3 separate regions of the Homo sapiens genome follow, and regions 2 and 3 are each linked to region 1. Evidence: fine-mapped expression QTL. A gene starts in region 1. Each other region holds a variant in brackets. All regions are shown on one strand. Distances are from middle to middle. Region 1 holds the start of SIDT2 (SID1 transmembrane family member 2). Region 2 overlaps SIK3 (SIK family kinase 3). Region 3 overlaps SIK3 (SIK family kinase 3).

The links. PIP is the estimated chance that this variant, and not a neighbour inherited with it, causes the effect.
Region 2: its variant is fine-mapped to the expression of SIDT2 in whole blood (INTERVAL, PIP above 0.99).
Region 3: its variant is fine-mapped to the expression of SIDT2 in whole blood (INTERVAL, PIP above 0.99).

Annotation. Positions count from the first base shown.
Region 1 is chr11:117,174,283-117,182,464 of GRCh38, forward strand. It overlaps SIDT2 (SID1 transmembrane family member 2), which reads left to right and starts at 4,461. Exons shown (of 26, transcript NM_001040455.2): 1 at 4,461-5,164; 2 at 7,134-7,255; 3 at 7,525-7,689; 4 at 7,778-7,823. The coding sequence starts at 4,982. It also overlaps a transcript of PAFAH1B2 not described here. RefSeq lists silencers at 4,560-4,769, 7,377-7,436 and enhancers at 5,750-5,819, 6,847-6,906, 7,143-7,938.
Region 2 is chr11:116,939,158-116,947,339 of GRCh38, forward strand. All of the region lies in intron 3 of SIK3 (SIK family kinase 3), which reads right to left. Among named protein-coding and RNA genes, the nearest start is that of APOA1, 110 kb to the left of the region's middle. The variant T/C (reference allele first, on the strand shown) is at 4,067.
Region 3 is chr11:116,863,062-116,871,243 of GRCh38, forward strand. SIK3 (SIK family kinase 3) reads right to left here. Exons shown (of 25, transcript NM_001366686.3): 14 at 7,270-7,340; 15 at 4,885-5,028; 16 at 607-757. Among named protein-coding and RNA genes, the nearest start is that of APOA1, 30 kb to the left of the region's middle. The variant T/C (reference allele first, on the strand shown) is at 4,872.

The sequences.
Region 1 (8,182 bases):
AAGTGATTCTCCTGCCTCAGCCTCCCGAGTAGCTGGGATTACAGGCGCCTGCCACCACACCCAGCTAATTTTTGTGTTTTTATCAGAGACGGGGTTTCACCATGTTGGCCAGGCTGGTCTCAAACTCCTGACCTCAGGTGATCCACCCACCTCAGCCTCCCAAAGTACTGGAATTACAGGCGTGAGTCACCGCCCCTGGCCATTTTTTTTTCTTTTTTTTTAGTGGTGTTTCACTCGTTGCCCAGGCATGCAATGGCGTGATCTCAGCTCACCGCAACCTCTGCCTCCCAGGTTCAAGCGATTCTCCTGCCTCAGCCTCCGAAGTAGCCGGGATCATAAGCATGTGCCACCACGCCCGGCTAATTTTGTATTTTTAGTAGAGACAGGGTTTCTCCATGTCTGTCAGGCTGGGCTCGAATTCCTGATCTCAGGTGATCCGTCCACCTTGGCCTCCCAAAGTGCTGGGATTACAGGCGTGAGCCACTGCACCTGACCTAATTTTCTGTATTTTTAGTAGAGACGGGCTTTTACCATGTTGGCCAGGCTGGTCTCAAACTCCTGACTTCAGATGATCCAACCGCCTTGGCCTCCCAAAGTGCTGGGATTACAGGCGTGAGTCACCGCACCAGGCCATCTTCAGGTCATTTTAACAATACCCCTGAGCCACCTGAAGCTTCCTCCCTGTCCTCTCACCCCAAACTTCATAAATCCCCTGTGACTTAAAATGGAGCTGGACTCATGGGTCCAGCAAGCTCCTCAGCTGTGTGTTGAATGGTCCCATTTCTTTGGTCCATTCAACACTCAGGCTCAGGAAGGGTGGTCCACAGGGAAATATAAGTCAAATAAGCCTTATGGCCCCACCCTGACCGCTTGAGGGCCACGGTTAGGGTTGAGCTCTTTGTATATTATGCCAGGGAATGCGGTAGCTGGACCTGTGCACAAGGCCAGGATCACATCCCTGAGGCCCCGACATCTCCCCTGTGTGCTCACAAGTCTGGCTTTGAGACACACCACTGCCTTTTTTTGCTGACTGCTGCAGCCAACAAAAAGGCATTCTCTCCCAGTGGACAGACCTCAGAAAGGACCTATTCATAAGTGCGGGGTAGGGCAGAGGGACTGAGGAAAGTTCTGCAGACCTGGGAACAGCAAGAAAATGTGCAGTTGCTGCCCTCCCACTCTGTAGACGCAGGGTCCTGACGATTCAAAAGTTAAGTCTTGAGACCTTGCAAAAGGGAAGGATCCCTTCAGAGTTTGCTTGGATGGATTTCTCTCCAGATATTGCCAGCGGAAAGGGAGCAAACAGAAATAGTGATAGTCCACAGTTGTTTGGTTCCAGAGCAGTGGTTCTCAAACTTCATTGTGCATAGCAAGCTTCTGGAGTGCCCCGTTAAATTGCAGTTTTCTGGGCTCCACCTCCCAAGATGAATTAAGTGTGAAGTAGGACTCTGGATGTGCGTTTAAAACAGGCGTAGGGTCACATCTTGCCCCAAAGTTATGAGGCCAACTTAGAGTAGTGGTGCTTGCCTGTAATCCAGCTACTCGAGAGGCTGTGGCAGATCGCTTGAAGCCAGGAGTTCAAGACCAGCCTGGGCAATGTATCACGAGTGTTTCTTAATGTTTCAGATTATTTACTGGCAAGATGAGCAGGATTACCATGAAAGAAAAGTCCAGATGGACTGAGGAAATCCTACACTGATTCTCCAAACTTGGCAGCTGACTGCATGGAGGGCTCATGATGAAGAAACCTCTTTTGCCATCCTGAGGATTCTCTGATTCATATTCGCCTAGATGTGCTGGAAACAGTACTGGACCAAGGTGCAAACTTGAGTCTAGTGAGGTACTAATGGGCTGAAGTTTTTCTGAGCGTCACTTTCCTCATCTGTATAATGAGGGGTTGGCCAAGGAAACCCATAAGGTTATCTTCCAGCTGACTTTCTAATTGGTGAACCCTTTGGAAAAGGGGTGCAGCTTGCTTCTGGTCTTCATCCTCAAGTATGCTGTGCTTGGACAGGGGCCAAAACTAATTCCTCCACTCACCATTTGCCCAGCATAACTACAACAGTACCTGGCACATCGTGGATGCTTATTAAATATTTATTGCAGGAATGAGTAAATATAACTAACTGATCATAAGGTAAAATAGTCTTCATTGGAACAAGGCTCCAGATAGTTGGGCAGGGCTGGGAGCTGAGACTGCTGCAATCCTGCCAGCTGAGAGAACTCTGACAAGGCACTGATCTGGGTGGCTTTATTAGGATGTCTGACAGCTTCAGAGGTGGCCACATTTCTTTTCCTTTAAACATGTCTAATTTGGCCGGGCGCAGTGGCTCACGCCTGTAATCCCAACACTTTGGGAAGCCTAGGTGGGTGGATCACTCGAGGTCAGGAGTTCGAGATCAGCCTGACCAATATGGTGAAACCCCGCTTTACTAAAAATACAAGAAATTAGCAGGGTGTGGTGGCGGGTGCCTGTAGTCCCAGCTACTTGGGAGGCTGAGGCAGGAGCATCGCCTGAACTCAGGAGGCGGAGATTGCAGTGAGCTGAGATCACACCACTGTACTCCAGCATGGGTGACAGTGAGACTCCATCTCAAAAAAAAAAAAAAAAAAAAGTCTAATTTGTCTTATAAATGCAATATATGTGGCCAGGCATGGTGGCTCATGCCTATAATCCCAGCACTTTGGGAGACTGAGGTGGGTGGATCACCTGAGGTCAGGAGTTCGAGACCAGCCTGACCAATATGGTGAAACCCCGTCTCTACCAAAAATACAAAAATTAGCTGGGCGTGGTGGCACATGGCCTGTAATCCCAGCTACTCGGGAGACTGAGGCAGGAGAATTGCTTGAACCCAGGAGGCAGAGGTTGCAATGAGCTGAGATTGTGCCACTGCACTCCAACCTGGGCAACAGAGCGAGACCCTGTCTCCACCCCCCGGCAGATAAAAAAGCAATATATAAATATATATACATTGTAGAACATTTGTAAATCTTTTTAAATATAAAAAATAAAATTTAAGAACCACTCACAATCCATTATTTTTTATTTTTTGGTACTACTCTATATTTTTAGAATTAAAGGAAAATGATATACAATATGTGTTATTTTTAAAATTGTAATTCAAAGATAACTACTGCTAAATTTTATTTTTAAAATTTGCCCTGCTTTCTGGAGACATTGCTAAATGTTTAGTACAATTTTTTTCTATTTTTCTATGCATGTCTATATGCATTTGGAATATATACGGTTTTATTTACTTATTTATTTTTGAGACAGAGTCTTGCTCTGTTGCAGCCCAGGCTGGAGTGCAGGAGCATGATCTCAGCTCACTGCAACCTCCGCCTGGTAGAGTTAAGCGATTCTCCTGCTTCAGCCTCCCCAGTAGCTGGGATTACAGGCACGCGTCACCACGCCCCACTAATTTTGTATTTTTATAGTAGAGATGGGGTTCACCATGTTGGCCATGGCTGGTCTCGAACTCCTGACCTCAAGTGATCTACCTGTCTTGGCCTCCCAAAGTGTTGGGATTACACGTGTGAGCCACGGCACCTGGCTCTATATACTGTTTATTTAGTGTCATATCCTGAATTCTCTGCTTACGTGTCCTGTGAAGTCTTAAGCATCATTTTTGATGCCTTCATGATAGTGCATTTAACCAATCCCTCATTATGGATATCCAAGTCATTTCCTTTTTGCTTTATATTATAAATATCACAGTGATAAGCGTAGCTGCCCAGGTATTTTTATCTGTGCTTCCTATTTCCTTAGGATAGAGTCCAGAAGTGGAATTACTGGATCAAAGGGTATAAAGCTCTCTAAGTTTCTTGAAACAGTGCCAAAATATTTTGTAGAAAAGTTTTCACCAATTTACACTGAAGGTCAGTATCTTTCAATGAGTTTTGTAACTGTCTCTGAGAGAAGAGGGGAAACAGCCCGGCAAGCTTGGAAAGCTCGGAAGGCCGTCCCTGCAGTTGTGTGGCCCCTCTAGAGGGAGGTGGGAAAGGCATGGGGATTCCTCCTGCAGTGCTGCCTCCGTTTCCCCTCCGCCGGTAGGGCCACCGTCCTGTTTCCTAATCCTTCGAGTTTTTCATTTTTTAAGATCCCCGGAGAAAAAGTGGCCCAGGGTTGGACGATGTTAGTTGTAAAGGTGGTGGTGGGGGTGGGGGAATCCTTATGTTTGAGCAAATGTAAGAGTTGTTCAGCAAGAACCCAACACTTGGAGATTGTTAACAGAAACATCTGCCTATTCCAACGTGAGTTTCAGAGATGGTGAAAATCACGGGAGAGAGTTGGGTAGGAGTTGGAGAAGGCATTGCAAGCTTTCCCCTTCAGCTAGACAGCTGCAGCCCCTTTAAGGGCAAATGCGGGACCTGGTCCTTTAAATCTGTGTCAGTTTCCCCTGACGTCAGCGGGCGGGCCAGCAGCCCTGCTGTTTATCGCCCAGCGGCGCAGCTCACTTTTCAGTGTTCGTGCGTCGGGACGGCGCGTCCGCCCGCCCTTAAAGGGCCCGCACCTCGGAAAACTCGCAGCCCAGCACGGCGTCGGGTAGCTACCACCTATCACGCCCCTCACTCTGCGACTCGCCTTCCTCCGCGGCCAGCCCCCGCCGCCGGCTCTTCCTCCCTCCCCTTTCCCGGCGTCTCCAGGCTCCCGGCAACCAGCCGCCCTCCTTCTCACGGCCCTGGCCCGGGGCTCCAGGGTCTCAGGTCGTACTCAGCCCCTCGCGAGCTGGGACCCCTTCCCGTAGCCAGCATCCCCTCCCTCCCCGCCCCCTCCCGGCCGCCCCCTCCCCTGCGGGGACCCTGGGAGCCTCTTCGGGGCTCTTGGGAGGGGACATTTCCTAATCTCAGGCCGGGGTTAAAGTTCTGGTCCTGGTGAGATGCTGGAAGCTGCGGCCGCAGCCGCAACCCGTCCCGGAGGTGTCCTGTCTCCTGTCGCCGCCGCCGCCGCCACCACCGCTGCCACTGCCGCCCTGCCGGGGCCATGTTCGCTCTGGGCTTGCCCTTCTTGGTGCTCTTGGTGGCCTCGGTCGAGAGCCATCTGGGGGTTCTGGGGCCCAAGAACGTCTCGCAGAAAGACGCCGAGTTTGAGCGCACCTACGTGGACGAGGTCAACAGCGAGCTGGTCAACATCTACACCTTCAACCATACTGTGACCCGCAACAGGGTGAGGGCTGGGGGCTTAGGGGCCAGAGGCGAGTGGGGAAGCCGACGAGGGCTAGGCGATTCTGCCGCCCCGCTACCCTTTTGGGAGGCCCCAGGAACGAGCTGTCCTGCTAGGTTCCCAGTTCCCAGAACCACACTGGAGCCTCTTGACCAGTCCTCCTTCCTTTGCCACCAATGTTTCTCTGAAGCTCCAGCTGGGCAGTTTTTGAAGTTGGCTCATTCCCATCTTCTCTTCCGCCCCCATTCTTCCATCAGTTGTGGTCTGAGCACACATGGCTTGCTCTCTACCCTAAACCCCAGAATCTGACAGCTCTGTGGGGTCTCGGTGGGAGAGGAAACAGGCTTATTACTGGGCTTGCCCAGAAAACCTCAGGGGAATGAGACTGGCCCAGAACTGAAAAGCTCTGTGCAGGCAAGTTACATCTCAGACTCCCCAGGGAGATGAATGCAGGGCTTCCCAGCCCTCTTCCTGCCTGGGAGAGCCAGCTGGCCTTGTAAATTGAGGGTGACAGAGGTTTTATAAGGCCAACTGCAAGTTGGGTGGGAAGAGAAGGGGAATTTGTCCACTGTGAAAAATCCACTTCACCCTGACTTCTCTTTGGTTTCTTCACCAGCTGTGAGTCCCTGAGTTGAAATAGACACAGCTAGTGTGGGAAGTCTAGACCCCAGGCAGAGCTGAGATTGGGAGAATTCTTGCAACCTGGCTGTGTGGTCTCGTGCCCGGGTCTCTTGCTCTCTCTCCATGACTGCCGTTTACTGAGAAGCAATGGAGTTGAGAATGGGGAATCTGATTTTTTTTCAGAACGGGGAGTGGTTTGGTTTCTGTGGCAGGCCAGGATCTGCCCCCAGTGCCTGGTTCTCTGAAGTTTGATCTCTTTCTGCTTAGAGTCCTTTCTTCCTTTTTTCCCATATCTAAAGGCACTGGAGAGCTGTGGTTTTTACTCTTTTGGGAAATGCTGCCCTAGGGCTTGGGTTTCAGCAGCCCAATAACAAGCATTCCAAGATCGATTTGGTTTTATTTTTCCTTTAAGCTCCCATTGTTTATATATGTTCCTTCATAGCTCCAAGGGTGAAGATCACTTTATCTTTTTTTTTTTTTTTTTTTTTTTGAGACCAGTCTCACTCTGTTGCCCAGGCTGAAGTGCAGTTTTGTGATCTCAGCTCACTGCAACCTCCGCCTTCCCGGTTCAAGCGATTCTCCTGCCTCAGCCTCCCAAGTAGTTGAGATTACAGGCGCCTGCCACCATACCCAGCTAATTTTTGTATTTTTAGTAGAGATGGGGCTTCACCATGTTGGCCAGGCTGGTCTCAAACTCCTGACCTCAGATGATCCTCCTGCCTTGGCCTCCCAAAGTGCTACAAGCGTGAGTCACCGCACCCGGCTGTCATTTTATAGAGGGAGAAGTTGAGGCTTAGAGAAGTAAAGTGACTTCTCCACAGCCCTGTCCCTTGGTGGGAGCTAAGGATACAACATGGCCTTCAATACCTACCCCTCCTCAACTCCTCTGGGCTCTGGCCCCAGGTTAGCTGTTAACTAGAGCTTCCTGCTGGCTTCCTGGCTCACAGGAAGGTTGAGGAGCACTTCTTGTTCTCCTGTGTCTTCGTGTGTGGGGGCGTGTGTACACGTTTGTGTGTGCAGGCCTGTGCATCCTGTGCACATGGATAGGAATGGGGTATCCTGGAGACTCGCAAGGCCTCCACCGTGTTTCCTGGCAGAGGGTGAGACCCTGCGGTTGCTTGGGTCCTGCTGCCCTGCACATGTCTGCCGGCCAGGAGCTGCACTCAGCACAGGTCTTTCCTGGAGTCTGGGGGTTGTTCTGGCAGAAGAAGAGGCAGAGATGACTCCCTGGCCCGACCAAGATGGAGAAAGACCAAAGTAGCTGGCATGAAGGAGGGCAGGGCTCATAGTCTCTGGAGCCACGTGTCCCTGGTGGCAGAGGCTTGAGAGGCATTTCCATGTCGTTCTGCAGACAGAGGGCGTGCGTGTGTCTGTGAACGTCCTGAACAAGCAGAAGGGGGCGCCGTTGCTGTTTGTGGTCCGCCAGAAGGAGGCTGTGGTGTCCTTCCAGGTGCCCCTAATCCTGCGAGGGATGTGAGTAGGATCTGGGCATCAGGGAAGCGGGGCAGCCTAGGCCAGTCCTTGGCTGGAGCCTCAACCAGGAGCCCCCCCATTTCTCCTCCCCTTTCCCTGGGCTGGGAGGCTGGTCAACAGCACAAGGGCCGAGTCCCACCAGCCGGGAGCTTGTGCACCTCGCAGGGAGGTGGTGGAGACCAGACGGGGCGAGGTGGGGCCTCGCTCCTCTGGAGGGGCAGGCCGGCTGGGACAGTGCTCACATCCTATCTCCCTGCTTCGGGCCATAGGTTTCAGCGCAAGTACCTCTACCAAAAAGTGGAACGAACCCTGTGTCAGCCCCCCACCAAGAATGAGTCGGAGATTCAGTTCTTCTACGTGGATGTGTCCACCCTGTCACCAGTCAACACCACATACCAGCTCCGGGTCAGCCGCATGGACGATTTTGTGCTCAGGTCTGCAGGGTAGAGTGAGGGGACCACGGGGGCTGGTTCTTCCCCAGGCTCCGGGGGTGACTGGTGGGGGCTCTTCTCTGCCCTGCAGGACTGGGGAGCAGTTCAGCTTCAATACCACAGCAGCACAGCCCCAGGTAACATCTCCCTGTTGATTGCTCGAGAGGAGAAATGGGGGAGCTTGAATATGAGAATGGGAGTGGCCAGCGGTCTTTGCTTGGCCTTTTGAATTGGCTGTTTTCTCCATGGAGGGCTCTCTGGAAACAGGAGCTCTGGCCCTGACATGGTGAGGGACAGACAGCATGGGACTGTACAGAGACATGGAGTCTGGTTGCCTCTCTGGCATTCTGCTGAGTGCCCTGCTGAGGTTGAAGGGAATGGTATACAGAGAAAGGGGCTGCTGTGATCAAGGCCTGTCTCCTCGGAGAGCCTCCACTGCCCACCCCTCAGAGGATTCTGGGTCCTCGCTTATAGGGGACTATTCCCTTCTAGAGGG
Region 2 (8,182 bases), 240 kb before region 1:
TTTGTTTTTAAGACAAGTCTCACTCTGTCACCCAGGCTGTAGTGCAATGGCGCGGACTCAGCTCACTGCAACCTCCGCCTCCTGGGTTCAAGCAATTCTCCTGCCTCAGCCTCCCAAGTAGCTGGGACTACAGGTGTGCATCACCATGGCTGGTTAATTTTTGTATTTTCAATAAAGACAAGGTTTCACCATGTTGGTCAGGCTGGTCTGAAAATCCTGACCTCGTGATCCACCTGCCTCGGCCTCCCAAAGTGCTGGGATTACAGGTGTGAGCCACCAAGCCCGGCCTTGCAACTTCTAATGAAATAGCTAGGCAACTAAATGACAGGAGTAGATAAAACATTACGTAAAAGACTGATGGGAAACTTTATAAAGGATCAATTTGGTGAACAATAACTATACCTGAAGATTATTCTAAGTATCACTAAAAGTGGGAAAATCAGATATTATACAACTCTTGAAGTGATGCAATAAAAAACTATGGAGCACTCCTGCTTCCCCTCCAAAAACTGAACTAAGCAAATTCCTAAATATAACTTCCACTTTCCAAGAAACACTGAACTACAGGAACATGTTGAATGACACAATAAATATATGATCAGCCAAATTCCAAATGTAGGACATTTTTTAAGACAATCCAGTTTCTTACATAAATAGATAGCATAGAAAAAAAGTAAATGTTTGTAGGGAAGAGATGAGGTTGTCACAGATTATTTAAAAATTTAGATTATAAAAAATTTAGACATTTTTCAACTCAATGGATGTATGGATTTCTTGCATCGTAATTTGTACAAACTATAAGAAGATGTTTTGAAACATCTGCAGAAAGCTAAACATGCCCTGGCTATTACATGATAGTAAGGAATTACTGTCAATGCTGTTGTATGTAAGAATGGCATTGTAGACTTCTGTTTTGATTATGAAAGAACAACTGATATTGAATTTACTTTACCTAACTATAGAAGCTGGGCTGTTTGTAGACACTGGATAATAACAAACACAGGGTTATGATTTTCAGAGAAAGTAAATGTTAATGTAGGAGCCAGGCAAAAATATTCCTTTAAGGTTTTTTTGTTTTTTTTTTTTTTTTGAGACAGAGTCTCACTCTGTCACCCAGGCTGGAGTGCAGTGGTGCGATCTTGGCTCACTGCAACCTCTGCCTCCCATATTCAAGTGATTCTTGTACCTCAGCCTCCCGAGTAGGTGGGACTATAGGCGTGTGTCACCACGCCCAGCTAATTTTTGTATTTTTTAGTAAAGACGGGGTTTCAACATGTTGGCCAGGCTGGTCTTGAACTCCTGATCTCAAGTGATCTGCCCATCTCAGCCTCCCAAAGTGCTGGGATTACAGAAGTGAGCCACCATGCCTGGCCCTTTGGGATTTATATATACTCAATACAGCAAAAATAATTTGATTTGTTCTCTGGGGCTCTTATTTTTATGTCATGGTAGAAATGACTGGATGATCAGACTATAAATGAATGTTTTAGTGTAAAGTGAGGTCAAAGCACAGGTGGCTTCCTCATACATCTTGGCCAGTTACAATATAAATGCTGGTCACAGACCCACCCCCGCCAGCTCCCCTCCTTCATCCATGCATCTCTCCACTTGCACACTCCTGGTGGGGGCATTAAAAAAAAAAAAGGATAAATAAATAAAATAAATGTTAGTCATATCTGATATTAAGAAAACAGAACAAAAAATGAATAATAATAAATGGGAAATTAATTAGGGAAATAAATACAAGTCAATTATTTTGATTCAGAGTGACTAAAGTTCAGTAGCATGGTTACTTGCTTGTTAGGAGACCCTTAGAAAATAGCTAAGTTTTTGTTTGTTTGTTTGTTTGTTTTGTTTTGATTTTTTTGAGACGGAGCCTCGCTCTGTCCCCCAGGCTGGAGTGCAGTGGCGCAATCTCGGCTCACTGCAAGCTCCGCCTCCTGGGTTCAGGCCATTTTCCTGCCTCAGCCTCCCAAGTAGTTGGGACCACAGGTGCCCACCACCATGCTCGGCTAATTTTTTGTATTTTCGGTAGAGACGGGCTTTCACCATGTTAGCCAGGATGGTCTCAATCTCCTGACCTCGTGATCCGCCCGCCTCAGCCTCCCAAAGTGCTGGGATTACAGGCGTGAGCCACCGCGCCTGGCCGAAAATACCTTTTTTAATAATCAAAGGAGTAAATAAACTAGTGGGAAAATGGTAGTTTAGTTGTGAAGACATAAAGGATGCTGCGGATTAAATAAAAACATGTAAAAAAAAAAAAAAAGCCACAACAAACCAGTACATAGTAGTGTTCAAACAAATGTGTTGTATTCTTGAACTTCCAGGCAGTCACAAGATAAAATAACCTATGTGAAACACTTAACACAGTATCTTGTACACAATGGTTATGCAAGTTAGTCTTTCTGATCCTCTGTCCTAATAGTTTTTGAGTGACCTATGGCATAAATGAATGGCTTTGTGAGAAGTTCAGGGTTCCATACATGTTGGCACCATTAAGAAATATTATTTTTAAGACACTGAGAATGTTCATAATAAATCATACACATTTCAACAGACTCCTCTTAAATTAGTAATTTGTTTTAAATGCCCATGAGTTCTGCCTGGTATTCAGGAAATTTTGCTTGATAAAGTGCTGGATTTATGACTTCATGGTCTCAAATAGGAAGTTTGGGGATATATATCTAAAGATATCAGAGTGTGGAAGTTTTAAATTATAAATTTAGTGGTTTACAAAACTAACCAGTTTCTCAATTCTGTTTGTAACATTAAATAAACCCACACTGTCATCACTGCTCCTTCATAATATAAGGCTGAATAGTATGCAAAAATAAACTGGATAAGTCAATTGAATGAGTAGTAAATATTCATGAAATAACCAATTACTGAAGTCTATTTATTACACTGCTTAGAATTCATAATCTTCAATATGTCTTTCTCTATACAGTTACCCAAAAAAGGTGCTTTCCCCATGTCAAAAACTCATTTAACTAAGATGTTATTAAATAACATGCAAATTCCATGCTTGACTTAGTTATATTTCATTATGACACAATGAAATACATTTACTGAGTGCCTACTATATGTTAGACACTACATTAAACAAGGAAGACACAGATGAATAAAACTTAAACGCCATAATCAGCAATCCAGTGATGTTCTTTCATTCACTTAGTATTTTATTCAACTTATCAATAAATATTTATGGAACATGCATTCCCTGTAGGCACTATTTTGAGTATTGAAGATTTGGTAGGAAACAAAAATGACAAAGTCTTTAATGGCACGTAAATTTTATTGACTCAAGACAGTAAAAAAACAAATAAATATATGTCAGTTCATGATAAAAACCAAAAAGAAAAGTAAAGCAAGACAGAGACTACAGAGCAATGGGCCAGTAGGAAGAATGAGATTTTAGACAGCATGGTGAGCAAACACCTCTCTAATGAGATAACATTTGATAAGAGACTGGCAAGAAACAGGAGAGACAGCCATGTGGATATGTAGGAAAAGAGTAATTCAGGAAGAAGAAATGGAATATATGGTCTTAAAGCGGGAGCACAGCGAAGGGTTTAATGAAAAAGAAAGATGCCGATGTGAGGAGGAGAGTGCTAGGAGCTGTGGTGAGAGACAGCAGGAGACCAAATTATATAATCTTATAGGCTATAGTAGGAATTATAAATTTATTCCAAATAGATGGGAAAGCCAACAGAAGTAGCTCAGTGGTAAGGTCCCACTTGAATTTTAAAAGAATCCTTCTAGCTATAATCGGGGGGGAAGTCAGGGCAGATTCAGAGAGACTATTTAAAGGCTACTGCAGTGATCTTAGCAAGACATGATGGTGGCTTAGACCAGATTGGTAGTTATGGAGGTGGTGATAAGTGATTGAATTCAGCATATATAGTCTTCCCTCTCTATCTGTGGGCACCACATTCATGGATTCAATCAAGCCCCTTGGAAAATAGTCAAAGGAAAAAGAAATGGACCAGAGTCTAAATTACCAGTAAAAGACAAACTTAGAAATGAAAAAAAAAATTACTTCAAAAAGTGCTATAGGAGAGGTATG[T/C]TCAAAGTGAAGAAAAAAAGGTAATTAGCTATTTGGCAAAATCAGAGCAGAGTTCACAGGGGGAATAACATTTGAGATGGGTCACAAAAGTTAAGGAGGGACAAAGAGGGCAAAGAAGGGCAGCAGGGCTTTTACATCGGGGCCAACACCTCCCATTGATAATCACTTTTCCAACCAACTCCTCTAAGACTAGCAATTCCTTTACAGGCCTCTTGAGGTAAAAAGGGACAATATTCCACCAGGGATTAGGAATTAATGTAACCTCTTCAAGGTCTCCACTAACAATACTACGCCATATGTTTGGGCAGCTGGTATACTCCCTTTCTGCCTCTCTTGCCTTCACATTCATCAAAGACACTCACCGAAACCTAGTTTGTAGTCTATTGCGCCCTCCACTCAAATTCTGCCATCACCTAGGGAATGTGAACATCAATGAGGATAACTTATTTGACAGTTTGCTTCATGGTTCCTTTAGCCTTCTTTCTCTCCGGTGACCTAGAACTCTACCAATGTATAGCAACTATTCCTATGGCCACATCTTGAACTTGTCTTTGCTTGACATTATTTTAACTCTGAAATTCTAAACTTCCCCCTCTCTTATCTTAACCTTCTAAATTAGCACTATCAAATAAAATACAATGTGTGCCATTTATATAATTTCAGATTTTCTTGTAATCACATTTAAAAGTAAAAAAAAAAAGCACTCATTTTGAAAATCAGTAACTTACTTTAACCAAATACATCAAAAGATCATTTCAGAATGTAATCAATAAAAATAATAGCAATGAGATAGGGTACCTTCTTTTTTCATAGTAAGTCTTCAAAATCCACTGTGTATTTTATACTTTATAAGCGTATCACAACTAAAATACTAAGTTGTCTATAGCCAAGGTGTAATGTAGTTTTATCAAAATAAGAGTTGCGTTTAATAGAAAAATATTTTAGACTCTGCAGAGTGAAGAACTTGGCCTTACCCAAAGAGAAGGCCTGGCCTTCCCTTGGCTTCTGGGAAGCAGTCTCTGGGTTCTTGGAATGTTATGTCTGCTCGGAGTGTCTCTGTCTGGGAGCCTTGGGTCATGCCAGAGAGTCTAATAACATGATTTAGGCTGGGATTCGCCACACCCATATAGTCTCAGGGTAGAGGCTGGATATACATTGTTGGCTGCACAACAGCGTGACTTGACGTGTGGGCTTTGGGTCACGAGCATCAGTTGACCGAGACACACAGATCAATCATGTGAGCAATCAATCAATCAATCAATCAGGCTTATGTAAAATAAAAACACTGAACACAGAGGCTGGGCTGAGCTTCCCTGATGGGTACTGCTCTGTACACAATGTAACACATCAATACCAGGAGTGTAACATATCTTGTATCCACATGGAAAGGACAACAAAAGTTCTGCATTTCGTACTTCTCCTGGACTCTGCACTTCCTTCCCTGGCTGATTTTAATCTGTATCCTTTACCTGTATTAAACCAAACCGGGAGTATATTAGCTTTCAGTGAATTTTGTGAATCCTTCTAGCTATTTATCAAACTGAACCGGTTTTGGGAATTTCCTGAACTTGTAGGTGACAGCAGAGTGAGGGGTGATCTTGGAGACTATGCTCTCTTAGTCTGTAGTTGGCTAACTCTCACAGCTGGCCTAAAACTTTTCATAATACCTCAGTTTTTAAATTTAAATGTAAATTAAATTCAAAACTCAGTTCCTCAGGGGCACTAGCTACATTTCTTTTTTCTTTTTTTTTTTTGAGACGGAGTCTCGCTCTGTCCCGTAGGCTGGAGTGCAGTGGCTGGATCTCGACTCACTGCAAGCTCCGCCTCCCGGGTTCACAACATTCTCCTGCCTCAGCCTCCTGAGTAGCTGGGACTACAGGCGTCCGCCACCACACCTGGCTCATTTTTTGTATTTTTAGTAGAGACAGGGTTTCACCATGTTAGCCAGGATGTTCTCAATCTCCTGACCTCGTGATCCGCCCGCCTCAGCCTCCCAAAGTGCTGGGATTACAGGCGTGAGCACAACAGCAACATGTGGACAGTGGCTGTCGTGTTGGGCAGTGTAGTTTTAGACTTTCATCTCTCCAACCTTCATATGCCCAACACACTAACACACTTGCTTTTCAACTTCATCTAGACCTGTAGCTTCATGAATTCTTTTTTTTTTTTTTTTTTTTTTTTAAATAACAGAGAATTTCTCCATGTTGCCCAGGCTGGTTTCAAACTCCTGGGCTCCAGTGATCTGCCTGCCTGGGCCTCCCAAAGTGCTGGGATTAGAGGTATGATCCACCATGCCCAGCCAGCTTTAAAAATTCTTATTTAAGATCAGTCATCCTGGTCTCACTTGCCTTCCCAACCCACTTCAGCCTAAGCCCAAAAGCCCACACTTTAATTACATTATTGCTAGTGGCCTCAAAACCCTTGTCACCTGTTGCCTCTTCATTTGCACATGTCCTGTAAACTCTAAACAGGATCAGTCCAATTGTCTGTCTTATTCAATTTACACACAGGTAATTGAGCATTGGTGGTAGGGGAAAAAAATCACTCAATTCTGTATAATGGAATAACAAGTTAACTGTTTCCTATCTCTAAGGCCTTTAATCAACTTATTTAGCTATTCTTAATTGCCCTCTCTCTCATTCCTCCCTGCAGCTAATTTCACTTTCTCCATGCTGATCCAGGTCTCTACCCTCTCACCCTTAATTCATCTGATAACATAATCTGCTACTCTCAATAGAAAATTATATGAAAAGCATGAAACATCTTTTTCACATTCTTCTACCTAAAAAATTGCCTACACCCACATGCATCCTTTATCTTCTATCCTTCTTCATGTGCAAGGCTAATTTCTTGCAATTATGCTCATCCCTCAGTTCCTCATTGATCTTGCTTTAGAGATTGTTTTCCATATCAATTATTTTCAAACTCATCTTCCCCACTACTGCATCTTCAACCTCAACCTGTAATCAAGTCTCATATTTAAACGAATCAAAATAAAACAAACCCCTCCTTATTTCCTGTCAAGTATCAAGAGGGTCTGAGATCTCACCATTTCTGCAAGCTAATAACTCAACCTGCCACAATTACATGGGTGATGGCAGAAGATAGGAAACCCCTCTGTCAGAGACAAAAGACTTTGTCACTTACGGCACAGCAAGCAGCATGAACATCAACATATTTGCTTCAGTTCCCCAAGCCCTAATTTTCACAGGGCACTGCAAAGGGGACCAGATGACGCCTACACACACAGTCGGGTCCATTATAGGAGAGGAACCCTGAGCTTGGAGCTTAGGGAATCTTTCACACTGGGCAATAAACAGATCTTTGAGCTGTGGAGGGAGATACTATCTCTGTCTTTCAAGGGTGCTCACTATATAAACATCCTTGAGAAAACAGTCTAGAACAAAGGCAGTCAGTGCCTTACTCATGAAACATGAAGAAATGTGAGATATCCGTGGAGAACTCTCTCCCAACAACCTTGCTTCCTGTACAAACTACTGTCTTCTCCCTTCTTTCCTTCAGAGCAATGCTTCTCAAAATAGCACCCAATGCCTCCACTTCTTTAACATCTGTCTCCACCTCTGCCATTTTATTAATATTTCCCTAGCCAGGCCAGGAGCGTTGGCTCACGCCTGTAATCCCAGCACTTTGGGAGGCTGAGGCGGGCAGATCACAAGGTCAGGAGATCAAGACCATCCTGGCTAACATGGTGAAAACCCATCTCTACTAAAAATACAAAAAATTAGCCGGGCATAGTGGCGAGTGCCTGTAGTCCCAGCTACTTGGGAGACTGAGGCAGAATGGTCTGAACCTGGGACGTGGAGCTTGCAGTGAGCCGAGATTGCGCCACTGCACTCCAGCATGGCCACAGAGTGAGACTTCGTCTCAAAAAAATATATATATAATATATAAATTATTATTTATATATAATATATTATATATAAATTATTATTTATATATAATATATTATATACAAATTATTATTTATATACAATATATAATTATTTATATATTTTATATATAATTATTATTTATATATTATATATATATATAAAGTCAGAGAATATGCTACAACATGTCAACATGTTCTAGCAGTCAGAGAAAGGAGGCCCAGCA
Region 3 (8,182 bases), 310 kb before region 1:
AGACTTGGTCTCAAAAAAAAAAAAAAAAAGTAGCACCTTCTCTGGTGGTTCCCACAGAAACCCAAGCCCAGAAATTCCTTTCCAATGAACTAGAGACAGGAGAAAAATTTAGTCCCTTCACAGGGGAAGGAAGTTTGATCCTGGGGAGGGCTGTACATAACACAAAGTAAAGAAAGTGCATTAGAAAGCTATACTTTCTTTTTCTTTTAAGACAGAGTCTCGTTCTGTTGCCAGGATGGAGTGCAGGGGTGTGATCTTAGCTTACTACAACCTCTACCTCCCAGGTTCAAGTGATCCTCCCATCTCAGCCTCAGGAGTAGCTGGGACTATGCTAATTTTTAATCTTTTGGGGGAGAAAGGGTTTGCCACGTTGCCTAGGCTGGTCTAGAACTTCAGGGCTCAAGCAATCCTCCCACGTTGGCCTCCCAAAGTGCTGGGATTATAGGCGGGATCCACTGCGCCCGGCCCAGAAAGCTATACTTTTTTAACCTATAAAACTGCAATGTTGCTGACATAAAAGGGGTACGTTTACCACCCCAGTCCTCCTGCAATCCTGGCCTCTGTCACCCATGCTCCTCCAGGGATGCCTGCCACCTCTTCCATTACCTGCTGCAGCTGTTTGATGCTGCTGTTGTTGCCCATTTTTTCCAGGTGAGCTTTGAAGGCCTGGATGCTCGCAGCCCCATCTGAGAACCGGCGCACAGGGGAGAAACGCTCCGTAGGGAGGTGCAGAGTGTTGGAGTCCTTGTAGGTAGAGCTGAATATATGGGAAGAGAAGGTTAGAGGCTAGGACTCAGGGGCTTTGACCAAATCACACAGGGACTGCTGTTCCAGATGAACATAAAGACGGCTGGCTGCCCAGGTAGCCCTGCATATTATGCCACTTTCATGCCATTTCCAGACATCAGTCGTTTCCCTAGCCTGCTTCCCTTTAGAGGGCTCCAGGTGTACATCTTCCATTTCTACTTACCTTCGGTTGGCTTACTTTCCAAGCCTGGTGAGGTCCCGAGATCAAGTACATCCAGTTCTTATAAATACACTAGGCCAGAGAGAAAAGCTTCTCAATATCCTCCAGGCCAGACTGTACAGAAGCTCTTGCTTTTATAATCATATGTCTATCTAGTGCCTTTAGAAACCTTAAATTCACCATTTGAGCCAAAGTTTTCCCTGAGCAATGATCTCCGTATGGCCAGAGGGAAACAACAGTCAGTTTTGTGGTCAAAGGTCTGGCCTAGAACTCATAGGTTCTGTGACAGAAAATAGAAGGTGGCGATTGGGGTGGGGGAAAATGAAGACTTCTGATCCTGGGATGGAGACAACAAATTCTTAAGGAATGTGGGCCTTGAGATCCTGCACGTACCTGGTCAACAAATAAGGTCACCTACTGTGAAAATCAACTTCTCAGAGCAGCAGCACTCACCCAACCTCCTAATGAAAGAGGAATCATATGGATTACCTTCAAAGACCCCACTGCTCAACTGGAACACAGCCAGAATCTTACAGAAAGAAAGAACAAGCTATTGATAAGGAATGCCTAAGACAGCATCGGGGTTAGAAGCTAACACCTACTCTTGTGACCTGATGATCAGAAAGAGATGTTTATGGGCTGAGGTAAGCAGATAAAAGACTGCCAAGGCAGCAGCATTCCAGTAGCAGATGGAAAGGATCAGGGTTTCATGTCCAGGGCAGAGATGCCATTACACTGAACTTTGGATGAAATGATGTGCTACCTTGCCAGTGATTCATTTGGGACTGAAGCAGAACCACAGCTCAGGAAGCAGGTTAACAAGCGAGTTCAAATACAATGCAGACAGCGCGGGACCAGGAGGAATCTAATGACCGTGCAGAGGTATCCAGAGAGTTCTGGCAGCAGGTGAAAGCCTTTTACCCTGTCTTTGCTAATGATGGCTTTTGTTTCAGACTCTACCTGAGGCTTGACCCAGCAGTGAGCTAATGAAATGAGCACGAACATGTATTTGGTTCAGCAACACAAAAAACAAATGAATTTGGCGGGCCACAATCCAGGAACAGGGATCATGAAGGCTGTGTTGAGAAGCATTTCCTTATAACTTGTCATTTCTGTTTCTACTTCAGGTTGAAGTAGAAGCAAGTAAGTACTATTTTCTCCTAAAATTTGATTCCTATGCTTTCAATGTTTTCTGAAATGGACATGTTTCTGATCCCCTCAGAAAGCCATGTTCTTCAAGTAGCAATACAGTCTTTCTGCACAAAAATAATTCTCTCCCATCACAGAAAATCCCAGGTCCAGGTATTTCATGACTTTTTCAGAAGCTCAGGTTGTGAAGAGACTGATACCCAGGTCAGTCCAGCACAGTAACCTCAGAGGAACGGTTCTGATGCAGTTGCTCATTTGAGAAGCACTGATAAGTATCAATTGTGCTTGATTTTATTTTTATTTGCAATCACACTCAAATTCAGGATGGCCTCGCATTAGGCTGATACTCCCACACTATACTCTTCAAGGAGGGACTTGGTTTCCCACCTGGATAAAATCTATCTTGTGTTAGTTTAAAAAAATTTTTTAGTTACACTTTTTAAAACATTTTTAACCTTAAATTACACATTTCCAGAAATGAAAAGGTTGATTAGACCACTCTTCTGTTTCCATGTTGAACTTCATCTCTTCTACCCCAGAAGGATAGCTATATATACTGTTCTTTAATCATTTCCTCCAGAAAATGAAAGGAATTCAAGAACCCATGCAGGCCACCCGTATTCCATGTTTTATAGCCTTGGAAAGTTTCTCATTTCCCCTGAAGACTGGCTTTAATCTCTTTTGCTGCATATTTGTATAGTGATCCCATCAAGACATGCTGGGTTTGCACAAATGCCCCATCTTATGCAATTTGCCACTCATAAAACATCATTTTCTTCCAATTCAAATAGGCTTGGCCACAGGCAACCCTCAAAACACCAAAAAGGTTCACATGAAAACAGACAGCAGATAGATTTCCAGCAGGCAAGGCCTTGACAATGACTCTAGGCAGGGTGGATATCACACAGACAGAGCTGTGGTCCAGTGTGGACCTCCTTGAGTAACAAATGTCAACAGAATATAGGGTCTGTGATAAAGCCTGACTCTGGAAATGTGACGATCTTCATGTTCCCCTCATAAGAAGACCTCCTGAGGAACACCTAGCATTCAACAAGGATACCTAAAGGACTTCAGCTAAACAACAGACTCAGACAAGGGCTGAAACATTAAGTGTCAGGCTGTGGAGGAAGGGAAGAAGGAGACAAGGAGAAAAGAAGGAATAAAGGGTGTATTAGATACCAGTGTAGAGCTTGAAGTTATGAGAAATCACAGGAAACGTATAGGGGAGGAGAAGGCAGGTCTCCAGTAATCACTCAAAGTGCTCTTTATTTATTTATTTATTGAGACGGAGTCTCACTCTGTTGCCCAGGCTGGAGTGCAGTGGCATGATCTCGGCTCACTGCAACGTCTGCCTCCCGGGTTCAAGCAATTCTCCTGCCTTAGCTTCCCGAGTAGCTGGGACTACAGACGCCCACCGCCACACCCGGCTAATTTTTGTATTTTTAGTAGAGATGGGGTTTCACCATATTGGCCAGGCTGGTCTCGAACTCCTGACCTTGTGATCCACCCGCCTCGGCCTCCCAAAGTGCTGGGATTGCAGGCGTGAACCACCGTGCCTGGCCTCAAAGTGCTCTTTAGTGTGTACGAACACTGTAAGTCCTGAGAGACTTTCATTAGAAAAAGCCTGTCTTTCTGTGCCATCAGAGTTTTATTTGAGAATTGTCATTCTTGCTACTCCTGACAGACCATTTTTACCAAGTTACTCATAGTCATTTATGAAAGCTTATCTTCCTTCTTTTAGGGTTCCAACGTGGCACTAATTATGTCCCACTCTGCTCAGAGTTCACTTGCCTCTGCTGATTATGTTGATGCCAAATGGGTAACCAGCCTCAGTAAAAAAAATGTGTCAAGCTTGCCAGTGCAAGCTGGCTGCAAGATTTCATAACACCACATATATAAACCTAGTTTCCTTGGAATCTGATTGCTTTTCAACCTTCCCAAGGCTGCTTTTCAGTGTCCTCCCCAAAAGACAGAAATAAAATACGCTCTAGTAACTGGTGGTGGCTTTGAACGTGTGGGCCATGAGCTTGGGGATAGCTTCGGAGTGGCCAAGACTGAGATTTTTAGTCATCAAGATAGTCACAGAAGATAATCATCTTCTTCAACTAGCAAAGTGTCATTCCGCAGCTGCTTCCAGGCTTACTTGGAGTCAATGAAGTTTTCTTGGTCAGGAAGGTTAAACTTGCTTTTATTTCTTCAAGAGAATGGATTATAACCATAACCGAACCTAGCAAAAGATTTTTGCCATCAGAATATTGAAAGAATGACCTCTTAAATACATCGCTCAAGAGGATCTCTGCTCTACTATTCAGAAGGGGCTTTGTCTTCATTTCCAGGCTGGCGGTTCAATGGTAACACGATATGAAATGCTCATTCTTTTGAAGGTGATGGATTATTAAAGGTCAAGTCTATCGATATGGCTAAAAATCTTCCTGTTTCCAGGTGGCCTTCTGAGAGTTTCACTTTCTTGCAGGTCTCAAGTTCAATTTTATCTATGAATCAACATCTAGAATCATGGGAATCAAATGCAGACAATAAACAGGTCTGCAAGGTAATGGGAGAGAGGAATCTCGCATTGCTCCAGGGCGCAGTAAAAAACCTTTGCCCTGTGCATTGCTTACTGCAAGGAGCTGAGAAGATGTGAGTTCAGGATGACAGCTGGCTTCTATTTAAAGCCACGATGCTAGTCACCGTCGCTGTGAGACTAATCAGAAGGGTGCCTGTCCGATGAGCCTCAAGGAGCTCGCACAGCTCA[T/C]GTGGCTACTCACCGATGCTGATCAGGTACCAGGTGAGGAGGCCAGACCCGGGAACGGAAAGGCTGCTGTCCTAGCTGCCGTTGTAGGTCCGGTGGGATCTCAGCTGTAGGGTTGGTCATGGCCAGTGTATGTCTTTTGGACCTATTTGCCAAGTACCTGCAACAAGCAGGAGCACATTTCATAGTAAAAAAGACAGACAGGAATATTCCTCCACAAGAAGCATTAGAAGTTAATCCAAAGCACTCAATGAAATAGTGCCAGAGCTCACGAAGGCTTGATGGCAAACAGATCCCTGCCTGGATGGAAGTGAGACACGTCTAACTGGCCAACAGAAGTTGGCTTGACAATGAAGTGGCTGAATTTTGAACCTAAGAATAGCCATTGAAGAGAAGAGAGAAAGTAGATCTAGCTCACAAAGATGAGATCACTTTTCCTTGCTTCATTCTACTCGGTAGAAGAATTTATTTTCTCCATGTTAATTTATTCATCTTTTCCCTCCAAATTTCCAAAATACAAGTCAGAGGAAATGAGCCCTAAGGACTATTCCTAGAGATGAACCTGGGGAGATATTCAGAAGGACTCTGTGCATGTCTCTCGATCTCACAGGCCCCAGGTTTGAGACTTTCTTCACTACAGGTCACAGAAAACTGATCCTTCCATTTGAGGATAAATGAATTCCAAAACCACCCTTTCCCTCTCGCTTGGTGACTATAACTCAATCATCAGAGAAGAAAAACTGATGTTGTCCTTGGGGAACCAACATTCTGTGGAGGATGAAGAAATAAAACCACATGAAATGTTTAGTTAGGGAGGGAAAAAGCAAGGCAAAAAATAAAAACAGAAGAGTCTCACAAGACGAAGAGTTCCCAAACTGATGGCTTTTATTCGGAAGATCTTTCAGACCCAGCACTTAGTTAATACCATCAATAAGATATTGTCCCTCTTTGTCTGGTGGATGACTTCCTCCACCGCTGCTGCTCTTCTGGAGGCATGAATAAAAGAGGCACTACACCTTTTTTATTACATCAAAACTGATGGGCATTATACCCTTGAAATGTTGGTCTAAAGAAGAAAGAAGGTAGACCTGGAGGAAGGAAAGTCTAAGACAAAGAAGATAAAATATTGCTGTCTCTTTTAAGGTAGAAAGGCAGTAAATTTCCTGATTTCTCATTTCTTCATGACCCAGTAGGGCCCATTTGTAACCTTATATACCCTCTTATCAGCAAACTATAGAAACAACAGCATCAAGGAAAAAAAAAAGTTACCAGAATTTTCCTTCTATTGGCCAAGCTGTAGAAGGAGCTGGCCCACCTGCCAACACCCCTGTTTGCCATGGTTTTCTTTCCACATAGGACCAGCTGCTTTCTGAATAGCAGCTCTCACACAGAGCTACTGGGGATAGGATGAGAGTCCTAGCCAGCAACTGGCAGGTTCTTAAAAAATGGTCTCATTTCATTCTTAACTATCTTGCCCCTTTCAGCTAAAATCAGTTAACAGACTGTAGAGTAATCAGTGTTATGTGAACTTGCCAAAGAGTAAGCCATTAATGTTTTAATAACCATTGGATAAAGACACCCAAAGTTCCCCAAAAGCCCATGAAAACCATTTTATTTCAACTTCCCTCAAAGGAAAAAACATATAATCTTGAAGAACACCTGTATTTCTGGGAAAATACATGCTGGATTCTGGTGAAACCCCCTCCCCGGATAATAAGAAAATCAACTCCCACAAGGGGGCATGCATGGAGCTAAGGACCAGGGCTAACGGAACTGAGGCCAAATGAACAGTACAGCATGCCTGATGGTCACTGCCGTTCTCTGTGAGTTAGGCATCTCTCAACAAGGTTCTGTAAACAATGGATATTTGCATCTGTCCCTGGCCCGAATCCCATATTCTCTTTTTCAATATCTCTTTGTTGGTACAAGGGGGTGGAAGAAGCACACAGCAAACAGTACAAGAGGTATTCATTCTCCTGGAAAGGAAAAGTCCATGCCAGAGGTCCATGGCCAGACTAGCTAGGATCACTGTCATCCCACATCTCCAATTCCTTTTCAGTAAACAGTTCTTGGCAGGTACGAGCAGGCTTTGTGCCTTGTGAATACTATCAGAGTTGCAATATGAAGGCAGGGGACAAGGAAGAAGGAGGGAGGAAAGAAAAAGTTCTTATGGTTATTGCTGTCACTTAGGGGACTTCCAATGGTGCTTACAGAAATGACATTTTCTGGGTAGTCTTCTGTTACTTCCATGTGGGGTGGAACATGCCATCTGGCTTGAGCAAAGAGACCACACAAATGTTGAAGCTGCACTCTACCACCTCCTTGGGCAGAGGTGACCTTTCGCTGGTTGCAGGGGAGCCTGCCCAGGGGCTTCTGCAAGCACTGCCAGATGTCACATTACCTCTGCACAGCTTCCTGGTCTGGCTCCCCGTCTGAGCTCTCCTCGTCCACAGGGGTAACTGCTGGCACTGCCTGAAGAGAGACAGGAAGGAAAAGCTCAAGGTGGCAGCTTATTCTGTCATGCCTCTTACTCTAGTAACTGGGCTTGGGGCAGGACTTTCTGTTAACTTTCTTATTTACAGAACTTTTCTAGACTCCTGGGTTATACAGGATTTTCATATACCTATTTTTCCATTTTTACCTTGCTTAGGTAATACTAATTAGAATTTCTTCCTCTTATTTATCTTCATTCATTCATTTATTAATCTAACAAATAGCCAAATGCTTACTGTTACAGGATAAAATGTGAATTTACAGACATAGACCTTGCCCTCATTTTACAGTCTAGTAGAGGATAGAGACAAGTAAACAATTACAAAATAGCATGATCAAGTCTTCTAATGGGGGTGTTTGGGAATTAAGGAAGGCATCCTGGAGGAGGTAGCACCTAGCAGGAACCTGAAGGATGCACAGGAGCTGGTCAGGCAAAGAGGGACAGGAGTTACAGGTTTCCAGGCAGAAGAAAAGAGAAGGCCTGTAGGTGTTTGAGGACCCGAAAATACAGTAGAAGATTGTTTACCTGAAATGTCTAGGACTTGACCTGTTGTTTCATATTAATGTGATTTCCGGAGTTTAAATGTCTTAACTCCAGGAAAGCATAGTGAATTACTGAAATTACATTTTGGTACATAAGATACAATTGTGTAGTATCAATTCACTGCTTTAAAATAGTTGTTACTCGCCAAAACATGTGAGTGAAATGAGAACCACCACAATGCTTGTATCACTGTGACTTTCCCATCTGCATCCTTGCTAGCTACCCATAGCCTGGGTGCCCACATCATCACCATGCCCCAGTCACTAGAACAAAAATC